Linked DNA regions of Homo sapiens: region 2 is linked to region 1. A link means that fine-mapping ties the variant in region 1 to the expression of a gene that starts in the linked region. Tissue or cell type: whole blood. Region 1 holds a variant in brackets; the other region holds the start of a gene. All regions are shown on one strand. Distances are between the middles of the regions.

Region 1 (10,636 bases):
GCGGGTTTATTATCTATAGATAGGCATCAAGGAATAACATAATCCTAGAATTAATTGCTAGCTAGCTGGTCCCCCATGGTTCAAGCAAGCTGCCAAGGAAAGATGGAATCTTGTCCCTGCATGCCCCACTTGTACCCCAGCTGAGGGACCCTGGAGATCCACCCACCCTGGGTTTTATACCCTGAGTCATGAGATCTTCTGGGCTAAAGTGTTGAAGGACATCCTGTTCTGGGGACATTGGAACTAAGTCCAGCTGTTTCAGCCAGGTCCCCTCTTATCTCAGGATGTTGCATTCCTAGCACACTGGTACAGTTATTCTTGAGAGCTACAAGCAAGAAAGAGCATAACTGAGTCAGTGCAAGGCCACTCAGAGAACTTTCCTGTACATAGTCCTTGCTATGGATATGTTTTCTCATTTTGCCACAAATAAATGATATGAAAAACTGATAATGTTCAGTTGCAGGAATGAAACATTAGTGTTAGATCTTGGTGGGGGGGGTAGGTGGGGTCAAATCAATCACAAAATGCTTGGAAGCTTTAGGGTCCAGTGAAGGCACCTGAGGTTCCAGGTACCTTTTAGAATGTGAACTTAGGTTCACATTGGACTAAAACTTTTTTAGGTATGATTTTAACATTAACCCACAGAAAATTTTAATCTGTTAAGTTTGGTTTAAATTTTATCTGGTCCAGGACGGGCACGGTGGTTCATGCCTGTAATCCCAGCACTTTGGGAGGCCAGGGCAGGCAGATCACCTGAGGTCAGGATTTTGAGACCAGCCTGGTCTTGGTAAAACCCTGTCTCTACTAAAAATACAATAATTAGCCAGACATGGTGGCACGTGCCTGTAATCCCAGCTACTAGAGAGGCTGGGGCAGGAGAAATGCTTGAACCTGGAAGGCGGCGGTTGCAGTGAGCCAAGATTGCCCTACTGCATTCCAGCCTGGGTGACAGAGCAAGACTCCATCTAAATAAACAAACAAATTTTGTCTGGTCCAATACATGAGTTTGCAATAGATTAAATGAAATATTGTAATGATGGTAATAGTTAACTTATTGATAACCTATTATATATACCTTGAATTTTAAATCCATATTTTATTTTGGGAGGTATAACACTGAATCCCTCAGGTACAGGCTTTGGACAGTATCTTAAAAGAGGTTTTTTTGTGGCCGGGCGCAGTGGCTCATGCCTGTAATCCTAGCACTTTGGGAGGTGAAGGCAGGCGGATCGTGAGGTCAGGAGTTCAAGACCAGCCTGCCCAACAGGTGAAAACCCATCTCTACTAAAAAATACAAAAAATTAGCCAGGCGTCGTGGCACTCGCCTGTAATCCCAGCTACTTGGGAGGCTGAGGCGGGAGACTCGCTTCAACCCAGGAGGCAGAGGTTGCAGTGATTTGAGATCGTGCCATTGCACTGTAGCCTGGGCGACAGAGCAAGACGCTGTCTTGGAAAAAAAAAGAGTTTTTTTGTTTTTCGGTCTTAATGTTTCTTTTAAGGGCTCACTAGTTGTGTGTGTGTGTCTTCTTAAGAAGTGAGTCATAATAAAACCAGGTATAGCTTCTGAATGGAGTGCTCTTTTAAACTTGGGATTTGTAAAATAATTTGATGCTTGTAGGATTCCCTGCTGACAGCTGGAGTTTTAAAAAGGGTACTTCAACAAGAGGAAGCCCCTGCAAACCCTTTCTGATAGAGAATAACTAGAGATATCTGGGAAACCCAAAGCAGAAGAGTCTAGCACATCATTTCTTTACTTCACTCACCGTCTTTGACTTTGGGGATTAATGTGAAACAGACAATAATCTAAATAGACTTGAATAAACTTCAGAAACATTACTTTATACAATGTAAGAAATTTACAAAAATAAAACCAATGAGTGAGTGAATGAATCAATCAATCAATAAAAAAATTGAACTAAGCCGCAAGATGGGGGATAAGATAACATTTGTATACAGCGGTTAGTATTTCTAGCTGCTTTTAGCTCTAGTATATTTTCTTTTGTTATCTCCCACATGGGACTCATGTACTCCCTGAGAAAAGCAAATCTTCCTCTCAACATTTGTGTTTTAAATAGACCACCATTTTTCTGGGACCCCAGGCTCAAAACATTAATTGATATTAGAGACCCTAAAGGCTGCTGACTGGAATATTAGACCATCTTAGATTTCTATTTTCACATTTCCATAGGCAATACTCCCCTTTAAGTCCATTTCCCATGTAATGTTGGATATAATACAGTAGTCTGCTAGCTGGTCTATCCAGCCTCATCGCATAGGGAGTAATCTTTGTAAAATTAAATTCAGCAAATATTTGTTGGCACCTGTTATACAAACACTGTGCTTGTTGCTATAGGGGATACAAATATGATTAGGACACAAACCCTGTTTTCAAGGAGCTTTACAGTCCAAGGGGGAATAAGATTGGCATAAACATAGCTGACATTCAAGGCACAAGGTGCTACAGGGCTGAACAAAATTATCATTTTGCTGCTCATGAAGTTATCATGATTCCCTATTACCTTTTGGATCAAGTGAAAAATTCTCATTCTTTGTAATTTGACACCTGCTGGCTGCTTACATTTACATTTTACTTCTATCCAACAAACCTCTACTCTGCCCCTGTCATCTGCCTAATACTCTCATGGACACAGCCATGCAGATATTCCTTCTTTCCTTTATTCATTCATTATTTCTGCAAATACTAACTGCTTGTCAGATACTGTGCTAGATGCTCTGGGGGAAACAAAAGTGAATCACTCACTGCCTTGAGCAACTCACTATCCATTGGAAGGGGATTAAACAAAGTTTTTAAGGAACAGTGTTTTGTAACAGAATGCACAAAGTGCTGAGGGAGGAGAGAGGAGCTGAAGGCCTCACAGAGGAAGTGAATCCTGCCAGAAGTTGGTTAGGTGTTCACCCGGGGGGAAGAGGGAGTGGGGGCCATTACAGGCACAGCAGTGTGTCCCAGTTCATGGAGGCAGAGCAGAATGTGGCTCAATCAGAGTGCTGACGGCAGGAATACAGGATGGGAACTAGTGGGCAAAAATAACATTGGGAAACAGAGCCAGATACCATGGGCCTTGACCCTATGCTAAGGAAGTTGTTCTTTATCTTTTGTGCCAGGCGATTCCATTTGAAGTTCAAACAGAGATGTGAACAGATGTAGGTCTTAGAATGCTCTAGCAGCAATGTGGAGTATTTGAGAGATATTGGAGGCAGACAGGTCAGCCAAAGGGGGAAGGAAACTAAAGTATAAATACACTGAGGAGACCCTAAAATTCTTTTCATAGTAACTTTCTCTAGCTCCTCCCTGCCTTGGTATCTATATTTGTCAGGACAGAATATATTGTGCTGCAGTAACAAACAGCCCCAGGATCTCAGGGGTTTGACAGAGTTTATTAAGGCAGGTAACTATTATCTGTGTGTGACTCAATGATAGAGGCCTCTTCAGTCTTGTGGTTTTGTCATCTCAACACAAACCACCACATAAGAGAACACTGAAGAGTCTTGCTTCAGCCCAAAAGTGACTCATGTTCCTTCCGCCCACAACTCTGCCTAACTCTAAGGTAGTAGAGAGGTATAATACTCTCATACGCCCAGAAGGAGAAGAAAGTTAGATATGGGTGAACTCTATAAACTGATGTCTTTCTTTTATCTTTTATAGCCTCAGGATTTCCATAAGTTACCCGAACCACTCTCCACTATGTAGTTATGCATTTTTTTTTAGAATTATCATCATAAGTTCTTTCTTATGGGTGTGTCTTGTTTCTCTAGCTACCTGAACCTGATTAGGTTGTATCTTCCATATCTTTTAGCTTTTAAAGTTCCTTACCAGTCCTACTCCTGAAGGAGAAGCCGGTAGGCTAAATAAGTGCCTGTGAATATACATAGGGTTGAATTTGGCAGTGTGGCTTTTTTCTAGCAGGGCCTGGGTGCTCTTTCACACACACTCAGGAATCATCTGATTTGTTTTTTCCTTTGTTTGCTATTTCATGTCCATCAAATTATTGGAATTTTATTTGAGTTAAAATGAATCAATAAGGATTGGTCTCTGTTTTACTGTAACGCCTTTAATGTCATTTCACCTGCGAGACACTCATTTCTCGTCTCAGCCTAGTGAAAATTGCACATTTACCCTCAACATGACATTGTCTTGGCACGTTTTAAAGGTGAACCTGAAAGTTTAAGGGCATCTAAATATGCCGTGCTCGCTTCAGTATCCAGTTGGCGAGGTTCAATAGAAAACAAATCAATTGTCATCCCCTGTTGAAAATAAGCACACAAAGATCTAGCTTAAAAAAAACGAACATTGTAAAATGAATTCATACGCAGTAGAAGGTGAGGTCGAGACCCGTGGAGAACTTTATCTGAGACAGTGTTTGTTTACCTAGACCGAACATTTCATCCTTTCTTGGTCAATCTCTTTGACTTTTTCTTTCCTACTAAGCCTGACTTTTAAAATAAGTGAGAGTCAGTGAAGCAAACCCCAGTTCCGATTAGTTCCCCATAGCATAAAGACAGAATAAGTGAGTATCTCTAACTTTTGAACATAATCCATAGGAAGTAGGTATGGCAATAATTATTTCTGGTCCAGCACAGAAAGCTAACAGATCAATTCACTCTTTCTCAAGGACCAATTCTATCACAAACATTTTCTTCCCAGAGAAAAAAAGAGAGAGAGAGAGAGATTCATTCAGTAGTAATAGGACTTGCTGTTTATCTGTCATCCCCAAAACTTGAAACAGTTACACTAGCACACCTCAGGGGGTTACTTGCTGGCTTCCACTTCTGCCTGAGAATTTGCTACTGTGAAATGTGTGTATAGTCTTGCTTTCTTTTTTACATTGAATTTGCATTTTAATGTTTTTCATTCTTCATAGCTAAGAGGGAACTTTCTTTTTTCTAGTCATTTCTACCTTGGGACTGCTACAAGTTGAAGTCTGGCTAGAATTGGACCATCTAGTGCAGACAAAAGTTGAGATGCAGAAAAGGGATTTGAATAGAAGTGCAAGGAAAAAGAACAGGATTAGGAATTCAAACCCTCCTCTTAGATTTGTATTTCCTACCTTTTTTCTTTTTTTAAAAAAATCTGCTTTGTTTTTTCATTTTTCTCTGAAATTTCTTAATTTGTATTTCCTACCTTTTTTTCTTTTTCTTTTTAAAATCTGCTTTGTTTTTTCATTTTTCTCTGAAATTTCTTCATTTTTCTTTCATCTCTCCATCTTCCAATTTTCTACTTCTTGTTTTTTGTGGTACCTTTATTTTTAAGATGTGTTTCTTTTTCTATAAACATCTGAATTGGGTAATTACTGTACCTGCTTGCAAATATTCCTCAACTCAGAAATCTAAAAAAAAAAAATACAAAATCATAACTATCACAGTTAACAGCTCCTCATCTTCCCTGTGCTCTACCTAGGTACCCTGAGTGTTAGATACAGTATCTCACTTAATTCTTCACCACCATCCTATTTAATTAATTTGCCTGAAGTCCTACAGCTGGAAAGTGGCAGAGCTGAGTTTCCTAGTGGTCTTACTCCCAGTGCCAGTGCTCTTAGAGTAAAATCTTGGGCAATTATACAGTTTGTCTCATTGGCTCACATATCTTAAACTCAGAAGAATTCTCAAGAGACCATCTGGTACCACTCTGGCTCTGATTAGTTCCTCTAATTCCAGTGTGCCAACATGCAAAACGTCTGTTGCAATGGATCCATTTAAATCTTCCATGTTAGTTCTGAATCAGATCCTCAAAGTTATTTGGCAGCTGTGCAGTAAGAGAAATTTCTCCATTGTTACCGTTGCTGGAAACTGGCTGCTTCTTATGCTGACTCTATTAGTAGT[G/A]GGAACAGCGGCTTGGAGAACCAGGCGCCCTCTCTCACTGTGGGCACCTACTCCATAATTCTCAGAAGACTCGAAACCATTAACCTTGGGAGAGAGCAGAGAGGGCTCCTGAGCTTAGCTTGATATAGATGCTAAAGGTGTTCAGCAGTTGCAGAGTCGCAGCTGTGTTACCTGTTTTGCACTAATTAGGAGTTACCATGAATCTGTTTGACAATTAAGGACAGAGTGAACTTTAAGGCAGATGGGTACCATGGGACAGTACACAGTTCTCAGGCAAGCAAAATGAAAGTTTGCACCAAGTCCTGTGTTTTTCCAAGACTGTAAAATTCTTTAATAATGTGGATTCCAGTGTATAAATAAAAGTCTGAGGTAGGTTTCTGCCACCTGAAAAGTGTCTCTCTCAGGGAGTAACTCTGCTCCAAATCCTTAGCAGTGCAAGTAGTTATTTGTGTGCAGCATCACCCACCAGATGAATAATAATTACTTCAACACTAGCCTTACCCAGTTCTTGGATTTCAGTTTGACTCTACCCAAAATGTATCTCATAGCATTCCAGCAGCTTAGCAACTAAATATTTATCTAGAATCAGAAAGCACAAAAAGTTCAATTTCTCTTAAAAGTCATACTTGTGAGCAGTATTTTAAGATAAAACTTTTGTAAGTTAAGTATCTTGTTCTTCTTTGCTCCCCTGACCACCCAACTAATTTGTACACATATGTATCTATTTCCCATCCCCTGGCTTTAGGTCAGGAGTTCTCTTAAATCATGTTCTTTTAGTAGGCTATAAAAATACTGGAGGGGAGATTTATCCAGGCTCTATTCTTTGAGGACCTGATGCTGAGTTTCAGGCAAGAGTGCCTTGTCACCGTCTAGAATCCGAGACGGATACAGCAGCTGGAGTGTGACTTATAGCTAGGATTCGGGAAGATGTGCAGAGTTCAGGGAAAACCTGCATGCCATGTGGTGTCGTTGAAAACTGTAAATATAATTAAGCCAGGTGGATTCCATGACAACAAAGAGGATTAGGGCCTGGGTGGATCTGGTAGACCATTGAGACCTATGTGAATAGATGTCAATTTATTTATATCCCCTCTCCCCAGGGGAAAAAAACAACAACAACATAGTTTGATGTCTAAATGAAGTAATCTCTGGAAAGAAAAGGGAGATTATATTTGTTAAACTGTATAAAAAAATCAGAAGATAATATGGCTTTGTTCACACTATTACATAAAGAAGATTAAAGACGAGGAACAAGCTGCTTAAACACTGTAAACTAATTAGTTCTACGAATTGTTTTCCCGAGGTTCATGAGATATGAAACATTGGCACCAGTGCGTGAAATACACTCTGCCTCAGTGCTCTTTTCAATTTATTTTTCTGTTAGTGTCATATGTATGTGTGTGTGTGTGTATGTGTATATATGTATGTATATATATATATATATATATATAGAGAGAGAGAGAGAGAGAGAGAGAGAGAGAGAGAGAGACAGAGACAGAGAGAGAGACAGAGAGAGAGAGAGAGAGCAGCCAAAAAGAAAGAGGTTACAGAGGGAGACCAAAGCCTGTGGGATGATTGAGGCTGACATTTTGTCACTTTAAGCCTGGTGCAGGGAGGGTCCTTCTCTAATACCCTGTATAAATACCAGCTTAATTTTCTGCCATCACAGGCTACATTGCGCAAATGATATCACGACAAGGCCCAGAGGAATTCCTGATGCTGCTCAGAGCACTCTGGCAACTCCCAGTGCAGCTAGGTCCAATCCAGCAGATGCGCCCTTAATTTGTTTCCCAAGATCTGGGTCTTATCTGAGAATAGGTGAGAAGGACTTGGAGCAAGAGTGGGGCCATGTGTCTGACAGACTTCTCATTCTCTAGTTTAAACAAGAACTATTTCCTTGTCTTAAAACAGACTATTTTCTAGATGGAGGACCAAGAAATCAGGTTTTTAGTCTTAAATAACAGATAAGTATATTTGCCTAATTTAAACAAAAATAGCATTTTTTTTTTTTTTGAGACAAGATCAACTCATTTTGTCACCCAGGCTGGAGTACAGTGGCACGACCTCGGCTCACTGCAACCTCTGTCTCCCAGGCTTAAGTGATTTTCCCACCTCAACCTCTCCAATAACTGGGACCACAGGCGCATGCTACCACACCTGGCTAATTTTTTGTATTTTTAGTAAGGGTTTCCCTATGTTGCCCAGGCTGGTCTTAAACTCCTGACCTCAAGTGATCCACCTGCCTCAGCATCCCAAAGTGCTGGGATTATAGGCATGAGCCACTACGCCCAGCCAGCATTTATTTTTATGTAGCACATTTTATCTTGTTCAGAAATATGTCTAACTTAGAAGTGTATGATTACACAAGACAGTGTTTGTTTTCTAATGTTTAAAGCTGTATTGTAATGAGACCTTATTGTAACCCTGACTCTCTATCATCCCTTTTCCATTTCTTTTCTTTTTTTTTTTTTTGAGATGGAGTCTCGCTCTACCACCCAGGCTGCAGTGCAATGGGGTGATCTCAGCTCACTGCAACCTCTGCCTCCCGGGTTCAAGTGATTCTCCTACTTCAGCATCCTGAGTAGCAGGGATTACAGGTGTGTGCCACCACACCCAACTAATTTGTGTTATCTTTAGCAGAGACACGGTTTCACCATGTTGGCCAGGCTGGTCTCTAACTCTGACCTTGTGATCCACCCACCTTGGCCTCCGAAAGTGCTGGGATTACAGGCATGAGCCACCATACCTGGCATTCTTTTCAGTTTCTTTTCCTGCATTTATTGTTCAAAAACAGAGGACATCCTCACTGCCAACCATCAGCATTCCCAGATCTCCTGGTCAGAATGAATCACTACTTTCTCTGTATTCTCAGAGAACTATGTATCAAAATACCATCCTTTATTTCATTTTAATAACAAACTTCTCAAAGGCACACTTGCTGTGATCTCCTCCTGCTGGATCCTGGCCCAGTGCGATGGAGAAGGCCATCTCAACAGTCACAGAAATGTCAAATCGGTTAAGTTCAGTTCTCATCCAGCCAGATTGTTTCCCCAACTCACTCCTGTATTCAGTGTTGTAGCCTCTCTTCTCTCTTCTTGAAACTCTCCTGAATACAGGAGAACCGAGGGTTTTTCTCATTTGCAGTTGACACTTCTCAGTCTGTATTTCTGGCTTTTGCCTGTCAGCAGGAGAGTCTAACTTTACCCTGTTGCTTGCTGCACACCTCTTAGTTTGTTTTGTTCACTCTTGTACCTCTGGATCCTAGAACAGTGCCTGCTATGTAATAGGAGCTCAGTAAATTTATGCTGAATGTCCCCTGCCAGCTCCTCAGGCTCCACAAGTCAGTGACCACATCTATTTCTCTTGTCTACCTAACATACTTCTTATTTATTCTGTCATATAAAGCTGTCTCTTTGTTCAGACCTGTTATTTCCAAGTTCTCCTTCTGCTCATTTCTAGGCAGTCACCCACCCTTTGAGACCTGTTTGTCCCCATTGCTCGTTCCTTCCACTTGCCTTCACTCCCAGTACAAGGCCTTTGGACAAGCCCTCATTTTGTCTTTCTGGGACCGCTGACTGCAAGAGTCTTGTATCTGTTTTCCCTGGCTTCTGTGTATCCCCAGCCCTGCTCATGGAGAGCTCTGTGAAGCAGTCTTTAAGGCTTTATTTGCTTTTTATACACTTAAGAAAGGAAGCCAGGTATTCACGTAATTGGTGTATTGGATACCTCCCCTCTCCACTAGAATGCTCCTGAGGACAGTGCCTGTGTCTTTAGTCTTGATCCATATAGTGCCTAGGCCAGCGCTTTACGTATAGCCTGGCGCATTAACATTTTTAGGAACTTGAACTCTACCCTTTTTTACACTCTACCAGATATTATAGTTGATGCTATTTCTTGTGCCAGTTAATAAACAATTTCTTAGAAGCAGAGAGCATCTTTGATACATCTTTGTACCCCTTCACAGGGCAAGAAGTTGTAGGTAGATACAAAATACAGTTGAATTTAATTTTAAATAAAAGTAATGACTATTGAGTGGATAAAAGTGTATACTGTTTTAGCAATACATTGATTTATGGAAAAATTGAATGTGAGTATTAGTATATATTTCATTAAGCATTCATATTAAAATAGTAATCTGTTGGCTTTTCCCATTTTAACTAGAGCTTTGTGAATATGAAGCATATTGGTGGGGCACTTGGGACATGGAAATATGTATTATTCTTATTTTCTCATGACTTGTTTTTACTTATATAAGCAGGTACTTAGAGGTTTTAGACATCACATTGTAGAATTAAATCAGTATGATTTCAATTGAGTTTTGGTATTTAATCTTTCTTTTTGAAAAAGGGTAATTTCGGAGAGTACGAGTATTGTACTCAGAATCTTCTTTCCTTTTTTAGTTTTTTAAAATATACTGGTGTGCATTTTTTCCATTACTTTAAGATAGTGTAGCAAATTAAGACCATGAGCTCTGGAGCCAGAGTCTGAGACTCAGTTTGTCAGTGTGATGGGACCAGTAATGATTCTTTTTCATCAGGATGTTGTGAAGACTTGAGATAATACCTGGAAAGCTCTTAGCAAAATGCCTGTCACACACTCATTCAACCCCTGGTTAGGTAATATATTATTCTTTTGTTTTAATTGGAATTTGCATAGGGAGGGAGTTGTGTATTCAGTGGGGAAAAACCTCTGAATGAAAGTCTCATGGACTTTCTGGTGCCTTCTTGTTCATGAACACCAGTGGCAATGAGTGGCTCCCTAGAAAACTTCCATGTCTCGAGTAACCTCAAAACCCACA
Region 2 (9,138 bases), 180 kb before region 1:
AAACAAATCCATCTTTCCTGCAACAGAAAAAACACACACCCTAAAATGGGCCAAGAACTTGAACATCAGCAAGATTACAGACCAGGGAAAAAAGCAAATAACATTTTAACTGAAAATTTGATTTGAAAAATAAAAGCTTATCCATTGGTTCTCTCACTTCTTTCCCCACTTCTTTCTCACTGCTGGAACTTTGTGAAACATACAGATGATGGAGGAGCATTTGTGTCGACATTCTGAATTTCAATTTTTAATAATTAGGCAGATGGTTGGTTTGTGGTAAAGTCCATTATTGTACAGATTGCAATTTGTATCTAGTCACAAAATATAAGTTACTTTCCTAGGACGATTTCAGGATCTTTTCAGATAGGAAATATTACTGTAATTGAAAAACGACTTAACTTTTAGCCAAGAGCCCATAACATCCAGGTACCTCCGTGCCCCTATGAACTGTTTCTTTTCCTCTCGAGTCTTTATTGGTCATAGCCCTAGATTTCCCATCAAATTCAACCCGGCCTGAGCGGCAGGCAATGCCCCTGCTGGGTGCGGATTGCAGGCCCACCACTGGAGGGCGTCTGGACGCTTCTAAACAGCTCTGAAGCGCCTGGAAATCCCGTCTGAGGACTGGAAAGCGCAGGAGGGTGAACGTGAGATTTGATTTTATTGGGCTAATAAGTAAAAAGGAGTGCAGGCAGGTGTGGGAGCAAAAGTAAACTGCCTTTTTTCTCCTGGGGATCTGCCCTTCCCACTAAGGCAGAAAACTCCCTAGGGAACATGAGAAAAAATACCGCTGCTCCCGAGCCCGCGGACCCCTTAAGGGCGGGTCTCGGGGGCCTGTGGCCCCGCAGAGCAGGCGTCGGGCTCACTTCCTGGGCGCTGGACGACAGTGGGGACGCGTCCCGAGGCGCTGGGACAGTCTCGCTGCCAGGAGATCGCTCTTCAGTGGCGGCTGAAGACCAGGCTTGCAACCTGCCCTTGAAGTCCAGGACCGAGGGGCCTTTTCCAACAATAAAGGAACTGCTTTTCTTCCCACAGCCCCCGCCCCCGGCCCTCATTTCTTTCCGCACCGGGTTCGATAAAGGCGTTTATTCTTTGGGGAGTGGGCAGCAAATCACCCTCAAGGTTGAAATGGAAGAGGTGTGAGGTTATTTCTGAAGGGCTCGTCTGCCGCATTCATTTCCTCTCTGTGGAAGGTTCGCGCTGAATTGTAATCACTTTAAACTGTGATTTGCCTGATTTTTAAAAACGTGTTTTCAGAGCATCACTTTAAAGAAAACTTGCTTCCTGCCCAAGAATCTTTAAATCCCAAGTGGGAAGAGGAGGGCTGAAAGGCACAGGAGGGGTGCTCAGACTTCCAGATAACCCAGCGCCAGGCAGCGTGCGGCGTGGAGAGCGGGTGGAATGGACAGGAACGCGCACTCCCTGAGGCTCCGTTCCAGCCCATCCGTCACCTGCGGGGCACCAGAGACAGATGCCGGCTCTCCAGCCAAAGGGTGGGCACAGGTTCCTTTAAAATCGAAAGACCCTACTCCCAGGTAAAAAGATGTCAAATCATTCCTTAGCCCAGACGGAATTCAGCACCCAAAGGGTTACACGTGGCTGCCGGGCTCCGGCGCAGGAGAGGGCGCCTCGGCACTCCCAGTAATTCAATTAGTCAGGTTTCTAGAAGGTGGGGCGGGGGAGGGGGTAGGAGGCGTGGGGAAGGGAGATTAGGAAAACGCCTCTTTCTCGTGGAGCAAACCAATCCGGTTGGAGTAAAGAGAGAGGAAAAACCCCCAATCTGTAAGCAAACAGTAGGCCGTTCCCTGACTGGTTGCTCCAGCTATCCCCCCACCGCGCTCCCACCCTTCCCAAGTAAACTGCTTGGAAGGAGGAAAAAAAAAAAAAAAAAAAAAAAGACAGTCCACATGACCCGGGCCGCAGCGGCAGCAGCGCTGGCTGGGCGCGGGCTGGCGGCACCTCCCCCTGCTTCGTCCGGAGCTCACACCCGCGCTCGCGCCGCCCGCCCGTCCCGCGTCCCGCGCAACACGCCCGGGCGGAGCCCCATCCCCCCGCCCACGTCCACGTTCACGCGTGCGGCCTCGCGCTCTGCTGAGGCTGCTGCCACTGGGTCGCCGCCGCTGTCGGCTTTCCACGCAAGTCATTAACGAGGGGGCGTGCCCGAGGAGATTTTTTTTCCCATAAAGCATTTTTTCTCTCGCTCTCTTTTTTTCCCCCTCTTTTGCAAAACTGACTTTTACAAAACCCTTTCCACTTCTTGCCAGTCGTTTCAATTCCTCCTGGGCTGCTCGTGCTGCTGCTGCTGCACTCAAGTTTATTTATTTTCCCGCCTGGGTAGGGGTTTTAGGATTCGGTTTGTGGTTTTCACCTCTGTTGCTGCTGTGCCTAAGGAGGGAAAGAGGAGCAGCTGCGGGAGGATCGGGAAGGTTTTCTGATGTAGTCATCGGGGAGGTGCCACTCGCTCGTGCGCTTTTTTTTTTTCCTCTTTTCCCATTTCAAACTGATTGATGCATCTCTACAAGTTGCTAGGCTTGGACCCGCTGGAGTCGCAGGGACACTTCTGAGAGCTCACCCCGGGCTCTTGGCACCGCGTGTGGGGGCTCAGTCTCCCTCTCGGAAGGCGATCGGAGACTGACATCGGCCCATCCAGGAGTTGGAGGGATCCATTTGAAAGTGATTGTTTCCCCTCCCGCTCTCCAGCCGAACAGTTGGGTTGGCGTCGTCTTGCAGGTTTAGGAATCCCAGCTCTGCCAGGCCGGCTGGTCTTAACCTCTGCTCTTCATTCACTGTGGTGCACCCACACCCAGCCAAGGAAAGCACGCGCGAGAAATCCCCGAGGCTCGGCCAGCCCCCGGGGTGCCCTCTTCCGCTACCGCCGCGTTCCGACTCTGCTGGGGGACCTGCCGGAAGACGCGAAGAGCCAAACTTTTCTTTGAGGTTTTCGAGGCAAGACCGCTTCGAAAGCCGGCGCAGCTGCCGCTTAACCAGTTCCAGGACACCGACAAGGCTGGGTTGCGGCTCCGGATCCCCACCCTTCTCGGCGCACCGCCCGGTACCGCAGCACTTACGACTCCTCTGAGATTTCTGGGGGTCGCCCCGCTAAGGCACAGAGGAGGCTGAGGAAAGGGGTTCTCAGACTCCCGGGACCACAAGCGCGAAGCCCTCTATCAGCACGTCGCCCTTCTCCTGCAGTTTCCCACCGGCCGCCAAAGTAACTTGGAGCGAAGCGTGGCGCAGTGCGAGGGCCCCGGGCGGTGGCGGAGCCGTGCGTAGCCTGCTGCGCCGACGCTGAGCCGGGCCCGGCGGGCCGGTGTATGTCTCCCCGCGGCTGCGGCGCGCAACTCCCGGTGACTGTGCAGCGCGCGCCGCCGCCTGCCCCGACCCGCGCTGCAGCCGCCCGGCCCGGCGCGCACCTCCCTCTCCCGGGGTGACCGGCCTGCCGCCGCCGCCCGAGACACAGCTTGGCACCTCTTCCCCCGCCCTCGCCGCCGCCACCACACACACGCACGCTTCTCTCCATCTTGTGATTCCTTTTTCCTCCTGAACCCTCCAGTGGGGGTGCGAGTTTGTCTTTATCACCCCCCATCCCACCGCCTTCTTTTCTTCTCGCTCTCCTACCCCTCCCCAGCTTGGTGGGCGCCTCTTTCCTTTCTCGCCCACTTTCATTTTTATTTATTCATATTTATTTGGCGCCCGCTCTCTCTCTGTCCCTTTGCCTGCCTCCCTCCCTCCGGATCCCCGCTCTCTCCCCGGAGTGGCGCGTCGGGGGCTCCGCCGCTGGCCAGGCGTGATGTTGCACGTGGAGATGTTGACGCTGGTGTTTCTGGTGCTCTGGATGTGTGTGTTCAGCCAGGACCCGGGCTCCAAGGCCGTCGCCGACCGCTACGCTGTCTACTGGAACAGCAGCAACCCCAGGTAAGCCGATAACAGGCGGAGAGCCAGGGCTACCCGGGCCTCGGGGCCCTGCGGAAGGAGCGGCGGCGGGGATCGGCGCGCACCAACCGCTGGCGGCGCGCACCCTCGGAGCCTGCGTCGCCCGGGCGCTGATGGCTTGAGGCGTCGGCGGGAAGCGCTCGCGTCGCGCCCCTCTTTGTTAAGCCGCCGCGGAAAGGCCAGGTACCCCTGGGAGTCCCCGGGGCTGCCTAGACCAACTGCTTCTGCGGGGCGCCGGGAGACTCGGAAAAGGGCGGGAGCCGGGGAGTAGGGACTTCTCTGCTTCCCAGCCCCGGCATCTGGCTGGCATCCGGTTCCCGGCGCGGGGAGCCCCCAGTGTGCGCAGCCGGGAGCTCCTTCCTGGAGCGTGGGTCCGCAGGGACTGCGGAGAGAACCCGCCAAACATCCCCCAAAGTTTTTTTTTTTTTTTTTTTTTTTTTAATTTTAATTTTCCCTTCTCTTTTCCCGGTGCGCGCAGAGAGAGCGCACGGGCTGGGGGAAGTGAGGGGGGCTGGGAAGCGGAAGCTTTAGGTTTTTATTTTCCTCTTCAACTGCGAGGAAATCATTCGGCCCCTGAGTCAGTCTGGGCCCGGCGCGCCTGGCAGTGGAGAGGATTCTCCCATCTTCTCCATCCCTCCACCCACCCCAGTGGGTTCAAGGTGCCAGAAAGTTTGATCTAATGCCGGGTTACGTCATGTGTGCAGAACAAGCTGCCAGAGTTGGCCGAGCCAGGAGGTGGGAGCCCTTCGCCCGCGGCCTGGCGATGTGCTGCCGGAGGAACGCGCGCGATTACCTGGAACCGATTTGTAGGCGTCCCGAAGCCCGCCGGGTATGCGGGAGACTAGAGGTGGGCGCCGGGGGCGGTCCTAGTGCGCGTGCTGGACACCGGCCAGTCGCAGACGTCCCGTGTTTTCGGACCCTGGAAGTGGAGTGGGGAGGTTATCCAGAGTGCCCGGCGGGGTCCTCCGGGTCTGGAGCAGTTCCGAACCTTTATTGCTTCCCGGCCTGTGCACAGAAGTCGGCCCCGCTAGGCCCATACCGCACTGCTTTCTCTGGGACAGAGGCTAGCTTCCAGCTGTGTGCCGGTCTCGGTGCCCTCCTAGGTGCTATTTATTAATAGTACCGATTGCATCTAAAGTCACAGGTTTTTCACTGGGCTGGAGTGGAAGTTGGGAAGAGAGAGGCGGGAGGCCGAGGGGTTAGCCTAAGAGTTGGTGCGCGCCCCGGGCTCCAGGAGAGAGGGTATCGGTGGGCGCCTCCAGTTTTTTCTATCTCCTGCGGGCCCTCTCCGCCTGCCTCCAGCCTCCCCTCAGCATGCAGGCAAGAGAGGGATTCCCTGCTTGAATAATGTCAGCGCAGATGAAGATGGGAAGATTTCCCCACAAGCAGTCCGCCGGTTACAGAACCAGGAGGGAGTTCCCCCTATCCCGCTAGTCCAAGATAGTCTTACTCAGGTAGCCGCCCAAGTCCTAAATGAACCGCTGAACAGGAGTGGAGATATTCCTGAAAGTTTGGTTCAAAAAACAAGAGTCTCCTGGAGGTGGGTGGTGGAATGGGAAGCGATTTCTTCTTTGACATGCCACTTACCACTATTAGGAAAAGAGAAAAAGAAGCCATCCTGCCAGAGGAGAGATGCCTTTTATTAAAGCTGACAAGACAAATAGAGCAAGCTTTCCAGTTGTGATGGTGTTAAAAGCCAGTCTCATTATGTTGGTTAGTTTTTTTTCCCCGTTTGTGCTTTATTAGGCAGCATATACGAAGCAGAAATTTGTATCTCTGAACTTTAGCACCTTATTAAATAAAGCAACACTGAAATAGTTTCTTTGAATTTGGGATATCTTGCTCTCGGTTGTCTTTTCTTTCCCACACCAAGCTCCACATTGTGATCTTTTTCTCATGGCATTCATTTATTTGGATACTTGGGTGTTCCAGTCTTCCTGGGTTAAAACGGAAAGAACCAGCAACACCCCTACTTTAACCCCCCTTCTTAACCTGTCAAGCTAGTCTGAGTTAGTTTGAGGACATTTTATCTTAGGTTATCTCTGTTTTGTGCTTTTGATACTGTTGTTTGGTTTGAGATTAGCACATTGATTTTTGTCACAGGTCATGTTTTTTAATAGATCTGCCCTGCCTGCAGAAAACTCTTCTGCTCAGGATGCCATGGAGGCTTTGAACCTGCCCAGACAAAGTTAATCTGCAGAATTTTAAAATACCAAGAGTATTTCTAAATCGGTATTCTAACTTCAGGTTTGTAGAATTACCTTTCTATTTGATCATTATCAGTTTGATAATGGCCAAAAGAAAGAATGATGTACCCCTCTTAACCCCAAGAGATACAGCCCTAACACTTATTATTCTTAGGAATTTATGGACACATTTATCTTGGTATGTTATCACAGTTAAAAACTTACTTTAAAAACAATATTTTAAAAGTAGGCAGTTTTATCTCTGAAGTGTTGAATAAGATGTTGCTCTTTTGATGCATTAAGAAAAGTCAACTTGGATATAAGAGGCCACATGCCAAATAAGTATTTTAAAAATAAAAACTAACAGTTTTCCACAAACAATAGTAAGAAAATATTTCAGAAAATTTCCACGGGTTTAGTAAATTTTATAAATTCACTGTTGTGCAATTCCTTTTCCTGTATGTTATTTCATAAAGTAAGCTAGCCATGCTTTGTGTCTTTATATAGAACCTATCTGTTAAAATTTTGCTAAACTAGTAAGACTTCAATCTTTTGAAAAAAGAATAGAGGACTTTAATTGCAACTTAAATAATTTTTTTTATTTTTCCCTCAGAATATAATATGTTCAGTGGGCACGTTAAACTGATGATAATGTACACTGTGTCTAAACGAAGTAAATCTACTTTAGCTTATACTAACAGATTCAATTTGAAATTATGTTTAGGTAAAATCAGAATTAAATGTATCTTGATCACAGGGATTAAGTACAGTATCTTACTGTGTAACTTGTGTCACTTGTGTATCTGGTAGGAGTTTATCTTCTACATGGAGTTTCATTACTGCCTCTCCATTGATAAATGAGCATCTATAGATGTAGTTTCACGGGAAAAAATATTAAATTTATTTGCTGTCAGAATAGTTTTACTGTTACAATCTATGTACCCAGGTATTCACTTCTGAGAAGTGGATACTGAGTTTTCAAATGCTGATAACTTTTAGTTGGTAGTATTTATTGGATAGGGGACCAAACTGATTTTTTTATGTGTTGAATTGGCACAAATTTGTGAAATAGCCACTCAGAACTATCAGTTTGAATAGAAATATATGATAACATTTGCCTAAATAGATCTTCTATATTTCCAAAATTTGAAAACTTGTATAAGTTTTACCTAAAAGTGTAAATAATCAAATCATCCTTTTAATATTATTCTGAATTCTAAACTGGAATGTCACCAAGTAACTTTGAGTAATGAAAATCCACATCAAGAAGAATATAACTATTTGTCCTTAATTTCTTTAAGAATGTAAAAAGCTTTTAAATAAAGTTAAAAAGACTTCCAGTAATAAAAGTTTATTTACATTCTCCTTTAGTAGCTATGCTTATAAAGAGAGTCATAATACTAAGAACATGCCTCTTCATCTGAAGTATGCCATAAGCAGTTTGGTGCTTCTAATAAGAATATACTTTTAAACATCATGTGCGTATTCTAAGTTCTTCTTGGATTATTTTGACTATTTGCTGAAATGATATTAGGGTAATTAAACATATCTCCTACTGGTTGGCATTATTGATGCAATAGTCAAATAATACAGCAGCAAATATGACCAACACACTTTTAGGAATACCAGTCGTCCTCAACCTGGTGCTTTGCTTCTGTTAAGGTTTGAGTATCATCAATTTAAAAGGTTATACTCTTAAGAGGAAAATATCTGTGTAAGTCATGAAGGATTTACTAAACTTTAACCTAATCATGTTTTCTTTGGACTTTTTCAATTCTTGTAGGGACTTGTATATTAAACATTTCATATTAGAGTAGCAGGTAATTGACACCTTTTAGTTTTGTTAACACGTAATCTTGGAGTTGTGAAAGTAATGTGAATTCTAGGTCAACACTCCCAAGTCCTCTGGCAGTACAGGTCAAATGTATGTGGCTAAGAAGAGAGAAGTAGTAACATTTTTTTTTTCCTAATCATATTCCCTTGAGTATTTTTCTTCTTTCAAAATTTAGTTGCTCCATTTAAAAAAAATCTGAGCCATCATCATTTTGACATATGTATACCAGTATGCCGGCACTGTGACCTTTTCACTGACAAGTAAATGAAATCAGCATGGTTTAAATCTAAGAATTTGTTGTGAGTAAAGATTGAAAGTTTATCTTGGTCTTGAATGAGTTTCATCACAAAACTTAGATTGTCCTTACTTTTGAAATTTTAAATATTTTAAGTAATATTTTGTATGTTAGAAACATAAATGTTTTTCAAGTAAAAGGCATTAACTTTAAGCCTCAGTGTAACGTATCACATTATTAGATGTATTGGTAGTAATTTTGTTACTCTGAAATTTAGATCAGAATTTATGCAAGTACCAGGCTAAAAATAAGGCAGTATGATTGAGGTTTATAACCCATGTTTTTATGCTTATATGTTTATAAGAGACGTGAATTGACCCTCCCCCCTTTTTAATCTAGAAATTTGTAAAAGAGAAGTATGATTCCTGTTTTTTGGTGAGTTTTCCATAGAATTTTGAAAAGCAGAGTTAGCTACTAAGATATGTTCTACCTATTTGATTCATTATTTTATATATTCACAATAAACTATCAGAAATACTCAACTGTCTGATTTTTAGATGATAGGAACATTAGAGCTATTTGAGGCAGATTTGGCTATACAGTCTAATTTGGCATTTTCAGGGTAAGACCAAGGTCAGTAAACTACTAGTGATTAAAAGTATCAGAGTCTTCAGTAGTTTATTACTCTCTGTTAGGTGATTTTAGTGGTAATAACTAAACCATCAGCTCACTGAACTAATATCTTGTTGTCATGTGTGTTGTGGCTGACAGTAGCTTCAGAAGCTTCCACCTTTGAAGGCTGAGGATCAGGTTTGGAGGGAACACTTAGTTACTTGGGTGCAAATTAACCTTGTGAATTTCTTGCCATTTAATCTTGCAGAATACCTTCTGAACAGGCATTTCACTGCATTCTGTCCACTGGCCTGGTTTCCTGTTGGATAAGGACATAAAGA

The links. PIP is the estimated chance that this variant, and not a neighbour inherited with it, causes the effect.
Region 2: it holds the start of EFNA5, and the variant in region 1 is fine-mapped to the expression of EFNA5 in whole blood (TOPMed, PIP 0.95).

What each region holds. Positions count from the first base shown.
Region 1 is chr5:107,479,524-107,490,159 of GRCh38, reverse strand. The region is part of intron 1 of EFNA5 (ephrin A5); the gene reads left to right. Among named protein-coding and RNA genes, the nearest start is that of EFNA5, 190 kb to the left of the region's middle. The variant G/A (reference allele first, on the strand shown) is at 5,839.
Region 2 is chr5:107,665,263-107,674,400 of GRCh38, reverse strand. It overlaps EFNA5 (ephrin A5), which reads left to right and starts at 3,464. Exons shown (of 5, transcript NM_001962.3): 1 at 3,464-3,912. The coding sequence starts at 3,788. RefSeq lists silencers at 501-580, 1,952-2,021, 3,382-3,431, 4,002-4,071 and enhancers at 661-710, 612-1,111, 2,852-2,991, 3,702-3,831, 4,232-4,311.